Regions from separate parts of the Homo sapiens genome. Here region 2 is linked to region 1. The links come from fine-mapping of genetic effects on gene expression. Tissue or cell type: whole blood. Region 1 holds a variant in brackets; the other region holds the start of a gene. All regions are shown on one strand. Distances are from middle to middle.

The links. PIP is the estimated chance that this variant, and not a neighbour inherited with it, causes the effect.
Region 2: SELENOW starts here. The variant in region 1 is fine-mapped to the expression of SELENOW in whole blood (TOPMed, PIP above 0.99).

The regions. Positions count from the first base shown.
Region 1 is chr19:47,307,871-47,315,970 of GRCh38, reverse strand. It overlaps C5AR1 (complement C5a receptor 1), which reads right to left and starts at 6,110. Exons shown (of 2, transcript NM_001736.4): 1 at 6,073-6,110. The coding sequence starts at 6,075. RefSeq lists an enhancer at 305-599 and a silencer at 556-751. The variant A/G (reference allele first, on the strand shown) is at 4,804.
Region 2 is chr19:47,775,614-47,783,697 of GRCh38, reverse strand. SELENOW (selenoprotein W) reads right to left here and starts at 4,995. Exons shown (of 6, transcript NM_003009.4): 1 at 4,884-4,995; 2 at 2,949-2,973; 3 at 2,781-2,834; 4 at 2,516-2,590; 5 at 2,310-2,408. The coding sequence starts at 4,912. The coding sequence ends at 2,328. RefSeq lists an enhancer at 2,045-2,630 and silencers at 4,698-4,837, 4,848-5,107.

The sequences.
Region 1 (8,100 bases):
ATCGATGGACAGATGGATGGATGGATGGATGGATAATGGAGAGACAGATACAGTAAATTTGGAGAGTCTAGGTAAAATGTATATGTATATGAGCCTGTTCCATTCTTGTCATTTTTCCGTAAGTTTGAAAATATTTCCAAATAGAAGGTTAACATTTTTAAAAATATTTTCACTGGTAAACAGCCCCTGCCCTCAGCCACCCACTTCTTCTATTGCCCGCTCCCAGCACCCTAAGTTCCTGTTTCCTACTCTGGGACACCCCCACTCCAGGTCGCCATGTTCATGTCACTAAAGAGTTAATGCTAGGTGCAGCAGGAGGCCCTAGACCCTGCCCAGGGGACCTCTGCACTTTAGCACATTGTTAAATATTTTGAATGTTCCCTTTGGCTGTGACGCATGAAGGTAAATTTTGCCTCTGCTGGTTTCGCAAGCTCCCAGCAATCCTTGACTGCAGAATGACTCAGACCCTCGTAAGGGGAGCCTCCCCACCCTCTGCTCTGACATCGCCTTGTCACTCCCTCATCAGCTGACAAAGCTCCGTTCCTGCCATGAGCTCACTCAGTCCTTTCCTCTGGTTGACTTCAGAAAGGCAGAAAAAATACGCTGATTCCAACGTCCTGTGGTTTCCGGGATCTTCAGACGCAAACGGCTTGCAAAGTTTGCCACTGCAGCACCTCTCCAAAGACTGGAAATAACTGACATGTCCAGCAAGAGGGGACTGGCTAAATTAATGATGGTACATCCAGGCAACAGAATACTACACAGCTATCAAAAAGAATGGAAAAGTTGGCCAGGTGCAGTGGCTCATGCCTGTAATCCTAGCACTTTGGGAGGCTGAAGCAGGGGGATTGCTTGAGCCCAGGAGTTCAAGATCAGCCTGGGTAACCTAGCAAGACCCTATCCCTACAAAAAGGAAAAAAACAGACAAAAAGAATGTTTATATAATGATGTGGAAAGACCTCCAAGATCTAGGGTGAGGCCAGGCGTGGTGGCTCACGCCTGTAATCCCAGCACTTTGGGAGGCCAAGGAAGGTGGATCACTTGAAGTCAGGAGTTCAAGCCCAGACTGGCCAACATAGTGAAACCCCGTCTCTACTAAAAATACAAAAATTAGCTGGGTGTGATGGCAGGCACCTGTAATTCCAGCTACTCAGTAGACTGAGGCAGGAAAAACACTTGAACCCAGGAGGTGGAGGTTGTAGTGAGCCGAGATCGTGCCACTGCACTCCAGCCTGGGCAACATAGCGAGACTCCATCTCTAAAAAATAAAATAGGCTGGACACGGTGGTTCACGCCTGTAATTCCAGCAATTTGGGAGGCCCAGGCGGGTGGATCACCTGAGGTCAGCAGTTCAAGACCAGCCTGACCAACATGGTGAAACCCTGTCTCTACTAAAAATACAAAAATTAGCCAGGAGTGGTGGCGTGCGCCTGTAATCCCAGCTATCTGGGAGGCTGAGGCAGAAGAATCACTGGAACCCGGGAGGTGGAGGCTACAGTGAGCCGAGATCGCTTCACTATACTCCAGCCTGGGCAACAAGAGCAAAACTCCATCTCAAAAATAAAATAAATAAAGTAAAATAAAATAAAATAGTGAAAAATAAACGTAGGTAGCTGCATTGTGGCACGTGGCCCACATATTGGGCAGTGCAGGTCCAGGGCCACTCTGGGGGTTCTAATTGCCCGGCACTATTCCATGTGCTTCCCAGGTGTTGGCTTAGTAATTTCCTAATCACAGTGCATATCTATGTGACAATAGCACAAAGGGCAGGGTACTATTATTCTTCCTAAATTCACATGCTCATTAGAGGAACAACCCTTGTCTGTTGCATGGAGAAAGGGGCAGAGAGCAGAAGCTGGGAGGAAACGGAGATTGGAACTGTCCAGGTGACGTGAGGCATGACGGTGGCTTAGACAAGGGTGCTGGCCGCAAGATGTGAACGATCGGATGAGAACAGGGTGAAGGAGAAGGCGCAGTACCTACAAGAACAGCCATAATCATTGCCAGGCTGTCCTGAGCCTTTCTCGTGTATTATCTCATTGAACCCACAAAGCAACCCTAGGAGACTTACTTGTTGCAACAGCAACACTCATTTTCCAGAAGAGAAAAATGAGGCTACAGAGAAATGAACAGACCTCTCCAAGTCTTCTCGGTTAGCAAGAACAGAGACAGGAGAGAAACTCCTGAGAGCTGAGCCCCAGAGCCCTCTCTCTCTTTTTTTTTTTTATGAGACGGAATCTCGCTCTGTCCCCAGGCTGGAGTGCAGTGGCGCGATCTCAGCTCACTGCAAGCTCCGCCTCCTGGATTCACACCATTTGCTAGCCTCAGCCTCCCGAGTAGCTGGGACTACAGGTGCCCGCCACCATGCCTGGCTAATTTTATTTTTAGTAGAGACAGGGTTTCACCGTGTTAGCCAGGATAGTCTTGATCTCCTGACCTCGTGATCCACCCACCTCAGCCTCCCAAAGTGCTGGGATTACAGGCATGAGCCACCGCGCCCAGCCCAGAGCCCTCTGTTTGAGTGGCTACCAGGCAGGCCTAAAGTGCATTGGGAGTGGGGGGGCATGCATTCTAGGCAGAAAGGAGAGAGGAAGGGCAGGTGGTGCACAGCAGAAACGAAAGGTCAGCATGGCTGGCAGGCGGCCAAGATAGGACTGGAAGGTCTGCAGATGCTGAGTTAAAGAATGTGGCTGGACGCCAGGCGCGGTGGCTCACGCCTATAATCCCAGCACTTTGGGAGGCTGAGGCGGGTGGATCACGAGGTCAGGAGTTCGAGACCAGCCTGGCCAACATGGTGAAATCCCGTCTCTACTAAAATAAAATACAAAAATTAGCCGTGTGTGGTGGCACGCACCTGTGATACCAGCTACTTGGGAGGCCGAGGCAGGAGAATCACCAGAATCCAGGAGGCAGAGGTGCAGTGAGCCAAGACTGCACCACTGCCCTCCAGGCTGGGTGACAGAGCGAGACTCTGTCTCAAAACAAAACAAAACAGACCAAATATTAGAAGCAAACTAAATTTCCATTGAAGGGGATGAAACCTCCTACTAGCATATTACTCAGCTGATAAAAGAAAGAAAGAAGCACCAGGCTGGGCAACATAGCAAGACCCCACCTCTACAAAAAATTTTAAATCTAGCTGGGTGTGGTGGCATGCACCTGTAGTCCCACCTACTCAGGAGGCTGAGGTGGAAGACCTCAGTAGACCCTGTCTAGAAAAAAGAAAAAAAGGAGGAGGAGGAGGAGGCAACTCCCTTGAACTACACGGGAATGAAGTACCTTCCTCAAGGTTAAGGGGAAATTAATGAATGCCTAATACAACGCCTGGTATGCAGTAAGCACTCAATAAATGCTAGTTAATAATACTATATGTTATTCATTTAAAAAAGCCAGATGTAGAGTACTGTACAAAACATACTGCCATTTATAAGGCTGGGAAAGGATAGAAATGTCACCCACATTGAGCGCCAACTGTATACCAGGCACTGCTACAAGAACTTTTCATGCATTCACTCAGTCAATTCTCTCAACTAGCCTATGATGTAGATTCTAGTATTATCTTCACCTTAAAGATAAGGAGAAGGAGGCTGGGTGCGATGGCTCACGCCTGTAATCCCAGCACTTTGGGAGGCCAAGGCGGGAAGATTGCTTGGGGCCAGGAGTTCAAGACCAGCCTGGCCAACACGGTGAAACCCCGTCTCTACTAAAAATACAAAAATTAGCCAGGCATGGTGGCAGGCACCTGTAGTCCCAGCTACCTGGGAGGCTGAGGCAGGAGAATCACTTGAACCCAGGAGGTGGAGGTTACAGTGAGCTGAGATCACACCACTGCACTCTAGCCTGGGCAACAGAGCAAGACACTGTCTCAAAAAACAAAAAGATAAGGAGACAGAAGCACGGAGAGGACAGATCTCCGCAACTATTTCATAGTAGAGACAGAAGCTGAGCTCGGTTTTGGGGTTCCCCGCATCACACTAGTCCTTACTTTGTTCCCTAAGCATCTGTGCTCTCAGGCATCTGTAAACTGTTTCTGGAAGGATCCACCACAAACTGGCATCCCATGGTTGCCCCAGGTAGGGTAGGAGGCAATGAAAAGGAGTCAGAGGGCCAGGTAGGGTGGCTCATACCTGTAATCCCAGCACTTTGGGAGACCAATGTGGGTGGATCACGTGAGGTCAGGAGTTCAAGACCAGCCTGGCCAACATGGTGAAACTCCGTCTCTACTAAAAAGACAAAAAATTAGCCAGGCGTGGTGGCGCATGCCTGTAATCCCACCTAGTCGGGAGGCTGAGGCAGGAGAATTGCTTGAAGCCGCGAGGCAGAGGTTGTGGTGAGCCAAGATCGTGCCATTGCACTCCAGCCTGGGCGACAAGAGTGAAACTCTGTCTCAAAATAAAAGGAAAGAAAAGGAGTCAGAGGCTCTGGGGTAGGCAGGGAGAATGAGTTTTTTTTTTTCTATGTTTGTTTTTTGAGATGGCCCTGTTGCCAGGCTGGAGTGCAGTAGAGCAATCTCGGCTCACTGCAACCTCTGCCTCATGGGTTCAAGCGATTGTCGTGCCTCAGCCTCTCAAGTGCTGGGACTACAGGCGCCCGCTTATATGCCCAGCTAATTTTTGTAGTTTTGGTAGAGACGGAGTTTCACCATGTTGGCCAGGATGGTCTCAATCTCCTGACCTTGTGATCCGCCCGCCTCAGTCTCCCAAAGTGCTGGGATTACACGCATGAGCCACCGCGCCTGGCCGAGAATGAGTTTTTACCAAGTATCATTTGGTACTTTGGAAAATGTTTTGGAAAGAAAAAAAA[A/G]AAGAAGAAGAAGAATCAGAGAGTCCCGTTTGCCCAAGTCGGATCTCAAGGGTGGAATGCAGGAATGAAGCAACATCAGACCCCTCCCTGGTCCATCCAAACCATCTTCCGTTTCCTCTTTGACACAGATGAAGCAAGGCAATGCCTGTGTTACAGCAGGTGCTGAATCGCAGCTCTGCTGGCTCAGTGCCCAGGCCTCCAGACGCAGGGATGACAGGGACCCTCATTTAGCCTGGGGTGCATTCCTTCTGACACTCACAGAATCCATGGCATAACCTGCTTCTGCCACCAACCATGGAGGGTCCCCATCCATCTCTGCTCCTGCCTGGGCCTCAGTTTCCCCATCTCTGTCATGCAGAACATCTCAAACGACCAGGCATAATGGCCTCATGCCAGTAATCCCAGAGCTTTGGGAGACCAAGGTGGGAGGATGGCTTGAGGCCAGGAATTTGAGACCAGCCCTGACAACATAGCAAGAACCCATCTCTACAAGAATAAAAATTTTAAAAATTAGCCGGACATAGTGGTGCATGCCTGTGGTCCCAGATACTCAGGAGGCTAAAGAGGGAGGATCACTTGAGCCCAAGAGTTCAAGACTGCAGTGAGCTATGATGGTGCCACTGCACTCCAGCCTGGGCAACAGTGCAAGACCCCAAGTCGAAAAAGAAAAGAACATCTATCTGCAAGAGCATCTGAGTAACTTGACCATTCCTCCAAACTGGTTCTTTCCAGCCTCCCAACATTTTCTCTGCCATTCCCACTGCCTGGAAGGCCTGTTCTAGATTTCTTCACTTGTGGAATTCTTTAAATAAAAAAAAAAATACAGACAGGGTCTCACTATGTTGGCCAGGCTGGTCTTGAACTCCTGGCCTCAAGCAATCCTCCCGCCTTGGCACAATCCCCAATGTGCTGGGATCACAGGTGTGACCCACTGCGCTCGGCTGCTTGTGGAATTCTTAGTCACCTTACTAGACCCAACTCAAGGGTCCCCTCCCCTGGGGAATCTTCTCGGGCCCCAGCCCCACGAGGTTGCTGTTGCTCCCACAATCTTGACAATCTTATTCCCATGGCCACATCCCAGCCCTGGAGTGTGAGAGCCTGGGATGCAGGAGAGAGGGAAGGTGGGAGGTGGAAGACAGGGAGAGAGAAGGAAAGGGAGAGACAGACAGAGTTGACGGCGAGAGTTGGGGAGAGAGAAGGACCCACTGGAGCAAAGATGGGAGGGACCCAGGACAAAGTTTCCTGCTCCCATTCCCCTTCGAGACTCACCATGTTCTGGTCTCCTGGGCTCCCCGAGGATCGAAGGTCCCTCCTGCCCAAGGGCTGTGGTTTTTAAAGCCCCAAGGGAAGATGCAGGGAGGAAATGACCGTCTTTCTCTCTGGGGCTCTCATTGGTCTGCACACTGGGCACTGAGGCCAGAGCTCCCTCTGCGGGGCACACACCCAGGGGACTCTAACCACCTCCTCCCAGGCAGAGAAGGGGGGCCGGCGCTCGGAAAACCGAGGAAGCTCCTGTGCAGGCTCGGCCCCTCTCCTGGCCTTGGTTTCCCTATTTGGGGCCATCTCTTCTCTCTCATTTTTTTTTTTTTTTTTTTGATAGAGTCTTGCTGTGTCGCCCAGGCTGCAGTGGAGTGGTGCAATCTCGGCTCTCTGTAACCTCTGCCTCCTGGGTTCAAGCACTTCTCCTGCCTCAGCCTCCCGAGTAGCTGGGATTACACGTGTGTGTCACCACCCCCGGCTAATTTTTTGTATTTTTAGTAAAGACGGGGTTTCGCCATGTTGGCCAGGCTGGACTCAAACTCCTGAGCTCAGGCAATCACCCACCTCAACCTCCCAAAGTGCTAGAATTACAAGTGTGAGCCACTGCGCCCGGCCTGGAGCCATCTATCTCTTTCCTCCTAAGACGCCAGCCTTCTGGGCAAAAGCTCAGGAATGCAGTTGGCTTAAACCCCTCCCTTGGGATTCAAGAAAGCAGAGACTGTAACCTCCACTCAGCCTCCCGGCCAGGCTGATTTGAGACCCAAAGAGGCTGAGCTAGTCTGCGGAGGTAGCCCAGCATTTAAGTATATTTTACTGTTAAATCTTCCTTCTAGGGCCAGGTGCAATGGCTCACACCTATAATCCCAGCACTTTGGGAGGCTGAGGCAAATGAATCACTTGAGGTCAGGAGTTCAAGACGAGTCTGGCCAACATGGTGAAACCCTGTCTCTACTAAAAATACAAAAATTACCCAGGTGTGGTGGCAGGTGCCTGTAATCCCAGCTACTTGGGAAGCTGAGGCAGGAGAATTGCTTAAACCTGGGAGGCAGAGGTTGCAGTGAGCCAAGATTGCGCCACTGCACTCCAGCCTGGGCAACAAAGCAAGACTCTGTCTCAAAAAAAAAAAACCATCGTCACCAGCCTGGCCAATATGGTGAAACCCCATCTCTACTAAAAATACAAAAATTAGCCAGGCGTGGTGGTGGGTGCCTGTAATCTCAGCTACTCAGAAGGCTGAGGCAGGAGAATTGCTGGAACCCAGGAGGCGGAGGTTGCAGTGAGCAGAGATTGCACCATTGCACTCCAGCCCAGGCTGACAACACCAAGACTCAATCTCAAAAAAAAAAAAAAGAAAAGAAAAAGAAAAGAAAAGAAAAAAATCATCCTTCTAGGGTTATAAAGTTGGCAATAGAAAATGGAGCTACCCTGTCCCCCAACTACACAAGCCACAACCATCTCCATCTATTATTGTTACATTGTAATATATAATGAAATAATTATACAATTCAACATAATGTAGAATCAGTGGAATCCCTGAGCTTGTTTTCCTGTAACGAGATGGTCCTATCTGGGGGTGATGGGATACAGTGACAGATCATCAGGCATTAGATTCTCATAAGGAGCTTGCAACCCAGATCCCTCACATGCGCTGTTCACAACAGGGTTCATGCTCTTTTTTTTTTTTTTTTTTTTTTTGAGATGGAGTCTCACTCTCTCACCCAGGCTAGAGTGCAGTGGCACGATCTCGGCACACTGCAACCTCCGCCTCCCAGGTTCAAGCGATTCTCCTGCCTCAGCCTCCCGAGTAGCTGGGACTACAGGTGCCTACCACTGCACCCGGCTAATTTTTGTATTTTTAGTAGAGACGTGGTTTCACCATCTTGGCCAGGCTGATCTCGAACTCCTGACCTCGTGATCCACCCGCCTCAGCCTCCCAAAATGCTGGGATTACAGGCTTGAGCCACTGCGCCCGGCCTGGGTTCACGCTCTTATGAGAATGTAATTCCGCCCCTGATCTGACAGATCAGGCGGTAATAT
Region 2 (8,084 bases), 470 kb before region 1:
CATGACCTCATTCTGCTCTGGTAAAGAATTTTAGGAAATGGAACTTGAGTTTAACGCATTTGAAAACTAGTTTTCTGGCACAAGGCACACTGGGAGCTGGTACTTGGGTCCACAGTGTGTTGGGATGGGATACTCTGTTCTAGATCAACATGGAATGGGAACTGGTGCTGAAGGTTAGAGGGGAGTAAAAAGTATGGCCAGGCGCAGTGGCTCACGCCTATAATCCCAGCACTTCGGGAGGCCGAAGCAGGCGGATCACCTGAGGTCAAGAGTTCAAAACCAGCCTGGCTAACACGGTGAAACCCCGTCTCTACTAAAAAATACAAAAAATTAGCCAGGCGTGGTGGCAGGCGCTTGTAGTCCCAGCTACTTGGGAGGCTGAGGCAGGAGAATGGCGTGAACCCGGGAGGCGGAGCTTGCAGTGAGCCGAGATCACGCCACTGCACTCCAGCCTGGGCGACAGAGACTCCGTCTTAGAAAAAAAAAAAAAAATTTGCCCAGCATGGTGGCAGACATCTGTAATTCCAGCTACTCACGAGGCTGAGACACAAGAATCCCTTGAACCCAGGAGGCAGATGTTGCAGTGAGCCGAGATCACACTACTGTACTCCAGCCTGGGCGACAGAGCGAGACTCCACCTCAAAAAATAAACTATGCTCCAGGCCCTGCAGTGCCAGAGACCAGAAAAAGGGCTAGTAACTGTTCTAGAATGGGTTGGGTTTCACGCTTATCTGGACCATACTGGCTTACAAACTGGAAAATCAGACTCAGAAGGTGCTGGAAAGTAGTTCTTTGTTCCTGAGGTTCATATAGAAATTGCCACTTGTTCCACAATGTATTAGGCTGGAAACAATACTTGGTTCAGAGTGCTTAAGGAGGCCAAGCACGGTGGCTCACGCCTGTAATCCCAACACTTTGGAAGGCCAAGGCAGGTGGATCACCTGAAGACCAGCCTGGCCAACAGGATCAGACCTACTAAAAATACAAAAATTAGCCGGGCATAGTGGCATGTGCCTGTAATCCCAGCTACTTGGGAGGCTGACACAGGAGAATTGCTTGAACTCGGGAGGCAGAGGCTGCAGTGAGCCGAGATCGCGCCACTGCACTCCAGCCCGGGAGACAGAGCAAGACTCCATCTCAAAAAAAAAAGAAAGAAAGAAAGAAAAACAGTGATAAGGAACCAGTAGCCAACTCCAGGAACTAGTGGTCAATTCTAGTGCTTAGGAGCTGGTTCACATTTTTCAATTGCTGGGTTGGGAAGGGGGGCTCAGGTTTACAGTGTGTTGGGAGCTGGTGGTGTATTTCATTCTCGGCTCTATGGGGAGAACTGGGAGTCAGCTCTAGGGTTTTTTTGGAGCAGACAATCCATTCTAGAGTTAGCATTTGTTTCTAGAGCATTCTTGGACTCATGTTCAGTTCCAAAGTGGGTAAGTTTCTGGAGCTGGATCAGGTCTGGAATATTCCTAGAACTAATTCTCAGGTTCAGAGCCCGGTGATAATTAGTGACCTACTCGAAATTGTGGAGCAAGGAAATTCTGTCTCAAAACATGCTGGGAACTTGGCCGGACGCTGTCACATGACCTGCTGGGTTGGGAACTGTTTCTTGGCAATGGGACAAAGACCTAGAGTTCCGGATTCTGAACCGTTGGGTTGCTAGCACTTTTCATTCCCAAACCAGGAGAGCTGTTTTAGGGCAGCCCTCTGACCCCACCACCAACTCAGCTGTCATCTTGCATACCCCATCTCAGCTGTCATCCTGCATACCTCTGACCCTATCTCAGCTGTCATCCTGCACACCTCTGACCCCATCTCAGCTGTCATCCTGCACATCTCTGACCCATCACCATCTCAGCCGTCATCCTGCACACCTCTGACCCATCACCATCTCAGCCATCATCCTGCACACCTCTGACTCATCAGCATCTCAGCCGTCATCCTGCACACCTCTGACCCATCACCATCTCAGCCGTCATCCTGCATACCTTTGACCCATCACCATCTCAGCTGTCATCCTGCACACCTCTGACCCATCACCATCTCAGCTGTCATCCTGCATACCTTTGACCCCATCTCAGCTGTCATCCTGCATATCTCTGACCCATCACCATCTCAGCTGTCACCCTGCACACCTCTGACCCCATCTCAGTTGTTGTCCTCCACCAACCGGGTCTAACTTTATCCCGCTCGCTCTGGGGACACACGTGATGTCCCCCCCATCTCCCAGGCTCTCCACCCTGGGCCAAGGAGTCAGAGCATGGGGCAGGGAGAAGATCCAAAGGGTGGTGTCCCTGTCTAGTGGGCCCCCTCACCTCTGCCTTCAGGGCGCATTAGCCCTGAGCCAAGGCGGCTTTGATGGCGGCCACCAACTTCAGAAACTTGCTTTCTGTGTCCACGTAGCCATCGCCTTTCTAGGGAGGGGAGGAAGAGGGAAGGGGTGAGCTGGGACCGAGACACCAACCTCAGCCCCAACCCCATGCTAGCCCCAAAACCAGGCAGGACGGACAGACAGACATACCTTCTTAGAGTGAATCAACTTCCCGGCTACCATCACTTCAAAGAACCCGGTGGCCTGGGGAGTTCCCTCGCCGCACTGAGGAAAGGGGGTAGGGGAGATGTTGGAGGGGCTAAGATGTCCTCTTGGGGAGACCCTCCCCTTCCCAGGGGGATGAGAACATGGGTGAAGGGCGTAGGGCTGACCTAACCCCCCTGCAGTGCCATCCAGGCCTAACGGACCGACACAGTGGCTGTGCTCAAGTCTTTCTCCCCATCCCAAGACTCACGATGTCCAGGCGGCCGGGGAACTCATCTTCTAACTTCTTCTTGAGCTGAAGATACTGAAAACGCGGTGAGAGGTCACAGCAGGGGTCATACCAGTCAGCCCCCTCCCAATATGCACTCTACCCCTCCCCAGCTCCCAGGAATGCCCCCCGGGCATCCACTCTGCTTACCTTGGACTTGTAGCCTCAAGCGCCACTGGTAGGAGAGTCCAAGACATTGGGGCCCAGGGGAGAGAGGGAGAAGTGGGGGATCGGGGAGAGGAGGGTAGACACAGGCGGTGTGGGGAGAGAGCAAGATGGGGCCAGGAAGAAATAAAGAGGAACACAGATGACCAAGCAGAAGAGGTGACAGATGCCCTCAAGAGAGAAGACAGGCACCAGCCAGGCAGAGTTTTGGGACACAGCACAGGGGGTGGCGCGGGGACACACAGAGACACACAGAAAACCAACACCAAGCAAGAGACAGAGAAGGGGGAGGGGAAAAAGGGGAGAGAGGAGACAAGGAGACCACAAATACGAGAGACGGGGACGGGGGAAAACCAGGAGAACTGGATTAGGAGAAGAACAGCACACGTAAGGTCCCCACCCACTCCCTGTGCCCACCACCCTCACCCACAGCCCTCGCAGCACTCCAAGGAAAACCCTGCGGCTCCTGGATTCTTACACCACGCCCAGCTAATTTTTGTATTTTCACCATGTTGGCCAGGCTGGTCTCGAACTCCTAACCTCAGGGGATCGGCCCGCCCCAGCCTCCCAAAGTGCTGAGATTACAGGCAGGAGCCACCGCACCCGGCCCCGCAGCTCCTAGATTCTGAACACCTTCCCAGTCCCCAGGGTGAAATACAGGCTCACCCAACCCCCACAGCAGGCTATTTCGGGACTGGAATCTGGTGTACAGGCCTGGTAGGCGTCTCAAAATGTCACTCTTGCCTCTGCTTTGTCGAGCAGGCAGAGACGTTGGAAAGCTGCCGACAAACCCAGGTTCCAGTTACCCCTGTCACCTGCAGTCCAGACTTGAAGCTACTGACCTGCCCCCACCCCAGTCCCAGCCTCAGTTTTCTCACCTGTAACATAGAACTAAAATTCCTCTCTTTAATTTACTTTTTTTTTTTGAGACAGAGTCTCGCTCTGCTGTCCAGGATGGAGTGCAGTGGCACGATTTCAGCTCACTGCAACTTCCGCCTTCCGGGCTCCAGTGATCCTCCTGCCTCAGCCTCCCAAGCAGCTGCGACTACAGGAGTGCGCCACCATGCCCGGCTAACTTTTTAAGTTTCTGTAGAGACGAGGGGGGGGTCTCCCTGGGTTGCCCAGGCTGGTCTCGAACTCTTGGGCTCAAGCGATCCACCCGCCTCAGCCTCCCAGTGTTTGGATTACAGGCGTGATCAACGGCACCTGGCCTAAAATTCCCCTCTCTTAAGGGATTCCTGGGAGGATAAATTCATTGAACACGTATTTATTAAATACCTACAGCATGCCACACAGTATTAGGTGCTGGGGAGTGGAGAGAACGTAATTTATATCCTATCCTATTATACCCTTCCTGAGACTTGCAGAAATTAAGCGTGTTCGGTATTGACACAGAGCCTCCCTCTTGCCACAGACGGAAAACTGAGGCCAGAAAAGGAGTGGGGTTCGTGGCCAAGGGAACCCACTGGGCAGAGGCCAACAATTCAAGTGCTTCTGAAACACAGGCTGAGACATTCTCGAACCTTCTGGGCTCTCACTGTCCCCACCCCGCGACTGTTCGGGATATTGGGGGAGGGGAAGCCTTAGGGTGGAGGAGCCTTAGGTCCCTTTACAAAGCTGACCCCCAGCCCCTTCCCCAGCGGAGCCCCGGAGTCGGGGGTTCGAAATTGACACACACTCGTCTCAGCCCCACCTTTTATAACCCGAGATGCCCAGCGTGTCACAAGTCGAAGACGGGGCCTAGGGACGACCGCCCTCTGTTTTTCGCCCCTCCGTACGCCCACCCCACCCACATACAGGGGCTCCCTTTTCCCATACAAGGGCTCCCATGGGTCCTCTCCCCGGGGCTCCCTGACCCCGGCTCCGAGAATCGGGTCCCGGCGGGGGTCGGGGACGGGGGCCGCTGGCCGCTGGGCTTACCAATAAACGACTCGGACGGCGAGAGCCATGGCTCGGGGCTGCCACATCCGCTGAGGAGCGGACGCCCGGGCCACACTAACCTCCCACCTGGACGCGCTAGGTCTGCGCGAGTGCGGCGGGAACCTGCGCAGAAAGGATGGAGCCTCGGCTTCCCCTGGCGCCAACCAATGCCAGGGAGGGGCGGTGGGCGGTGGGCGGAGAGGCGCCAAGGCGGAGGATAAGGAACCCGCGACCCGCCAGCCCGAGGCCCCCACACAAGTCTCCTTCCCATCCTCCTGTTGGGCTGGAGAGAGTCTCGATACAGGCAGTCCCCGGGGGAAGCCCTCCGCGCGTCCCCTCCCAGGTCCCCCCGGCCAGAATGGTACGGCCCACGGGGGCGGTGATTTACGGCTGGCCGCTCCCAGCTGGACCCGGAATCAGCCTCAAGGGTGGTCTTTTCACTGCGTGGGCTTGGGGACGGCGCGGTGGGGACAGAAGCAGGGCGCGATTCTTGAGTCCCTCACCTCCCCTGGAGAGGGCGAGGGGGCGAGAGGGGAAGGATTCGGGGTAGACCAGGTGAGGGAGGAGACAGGGAGTTGAGGGGGAGGTTTTCAGGGAGCGGTCCAGGGCCCACAGTTGCCTTATAAAGACCTGCAGCCGCAGGGCGCGGTGGCTCACGCCTGTAACCCCAGCGCTTTGGGAGGCAGAGGCAGGAATTCAAGACCAGCCTGGGCAACATAGCCAGACTGCGTCTCTACAGAATAATAATAATAATACATTAGTGGCTGGGTGCGTTGGCTCACGCCTGTAATCCCAACACTTTGGAAGGCCGAGGCGGGCGGATCACTTGAGGTCAGGAGTTCAAGACCAGCCTGGCCAACATGGAGGAACCCCGTCTCTATTAAAAATACAAAAATTAGATGGGCGTGGTGGCGCGTGCCTGTAGTCCCAGCTACTCGGAAGGCTGAGGCAGGAGAATTACTTGAACCTGGGAGGCGGAGGTTGCAGTGAGCCAAGATCAGGCCAATGCACTCCAGCCTGGGTGACAGAGCGAGGCTCCACCTCAAATAAATAAATAGATAATAAATCAGCCGGGCGTGGTGGTGTGTGCCTACAGTCCCAGGCTACTTGAGAGGCTTAGGCAGGAGGCTCGCTTGAGCGCAGGAGTTTGGAAGCTGCTGTGAGCCGTGATTGCACCACTGCACTCCAGCTTAGGCCACCAAGCAAGACCCTCTCTAAAAAAACAAAAGGCCTGCTGCGGCTGGGCACGGTGGCACATACCTGTAATCCCAATGCTTTGGGAGGCCGAGGCAGGAGGACTGCTTGAGCCCAAGAGTCTGAGACCAGCTGGGGCAACATAGCAAGACCCCATCTCTACAAAAACTTTTAAAATTAGTCCGTGTGGTGGCATGTACCTGTACTCCCAGTTACTGGGGAGGCTGAGGTGGAAGGATCACTTTAGCCCAGGAGTTTGGGGCTGCAGTGAGCCGTGATTGTGCCACTGCCACCCCAGCCTGGACAACAGAGTAAGACACTGTCTCGAAAAAAGAAAGAAAGGAAAAGGCCTGGCCAGGCACAGTGGGTCACACCTGAAATCCCAGCACTTTGGGAGGCCAGGGTGGGTGGATCACCTGAAGTCAGGAGTTCGAGACCAGCCTGGACAACATGGCAAAACCCCGTCGCTACTAAAAATATGAAAATTAGCCAGGCGTGGTGGCGCATGCCTGTAGTCCCAGCTCTTCGGGAGGCTGAGGCAGGAGAATCACTTGAACCCAGGAGGTACAGGTTGCAGTGAGCCAAGATCACGCCATTGCACTCCTGTTTGGGCGACAAGAGCAAAACTCAACTCCATCTCAAAAAAAAAAAAAAAAGGAAAAGGAAAAGGCCTACTGCCGGACCTGGCACAGCCTGGTCATTCATTACAGAACAATAGTCACTCCCCATGAACCCTCTCCGTGCAGAGGGGATCGTCATGGAAAGTGCTAGAAACAGGCAGTTGAGTTGAGGAGTGAGGGTGCAGGGGCTTATCTCTGAGCCTGTTTCTCCATTTGGAAGTTGGGTGTAATTGCCTACAGGAAATGTTCACTCATTTAACAAATAGGTACTTCATAACCACCTGCAGTCCCAGTTTCCAGGGATACAGCAATGAATAAATAAACAAAGTCCCTTCCTTCATGGGAGTGATCTGGCAGGTAGAGACAAAGGGCAGGAAACAACATGAAAACAGCACTTCCATTAGATGGTTGATGTGAGCAGTAAGCGAGTTTATACAGGTAGGAAGAACTAGAGCTCTGACTGGCACACGGGGATAACTCAATAAACTCAGCCTGATGAGGTGGCTCACACCTGTAATCCCAGCACTTTGGGAGGCCGAGGCAGGCAGATCACCTGAGCTCAGGAGTTCAAGACCAGCCTGGCCATCATGGTGAAACCCTGTCTCTACTAAAAATACAAAAATTATCCCAATGTGGTGGTGCACGCCTGTAATCCCAGCTACTTGGGAGGCTGAGGCAGGAGAATCACTTGAACCCAGGAGACAGAAGGCAGTGAGCTGAGATTGCACCACTGCGCTCCAGCCTGGGCGACAGAGCGAGACTGTATCAAAAAAAAAAAAAAAAAAAAAAAAAGGTTAACTCTATCTGGGATTTCCCTGTCCCCAGATCCCCTAGTCTTTACCTCTTAGAACCCTAAGCAAAGTTCAAGTCGACTCCACCCACCTCAGTCTGATCCCCCTGATCTTGGGAGGATTTAATGAGCAAGTGCATGTAAAGCAACACAGGGCTGGGCAAAAAGTGAATGACCCACAAATAGAGCTATCTTCTGTGACTCCCAGAGCCCTCAACAAAAACTCAAACCTCTGCCTGGGCAACATAGTGAGACCCCATCTCTATAAATACAAATTATATATATAGATATGTATATACACAAAAATATATATACAAAATAAATATATACATACCATATATATTTTTTTGTTTGTTTGTTTGTTTGTTTTTTGAGACGGAGTCTCACTCTGTTGCCCAGGCTGGAGTGCAGTGGCACAATCTCGGCTCACTGCAACCTCTGCCTCCCAGGTTCAAGCAATTCTCCTGCCTCAGCCTCCCAAGCTGGAGCTACAGGCATGCGCCACCATGCCCAGCTAATTTTTGTATTTTTAGTAGAGACAGGCTTTCATCATGTTGGCCACACTGGTCTCCAACTCCAGACCTCAAGTGATCTGCT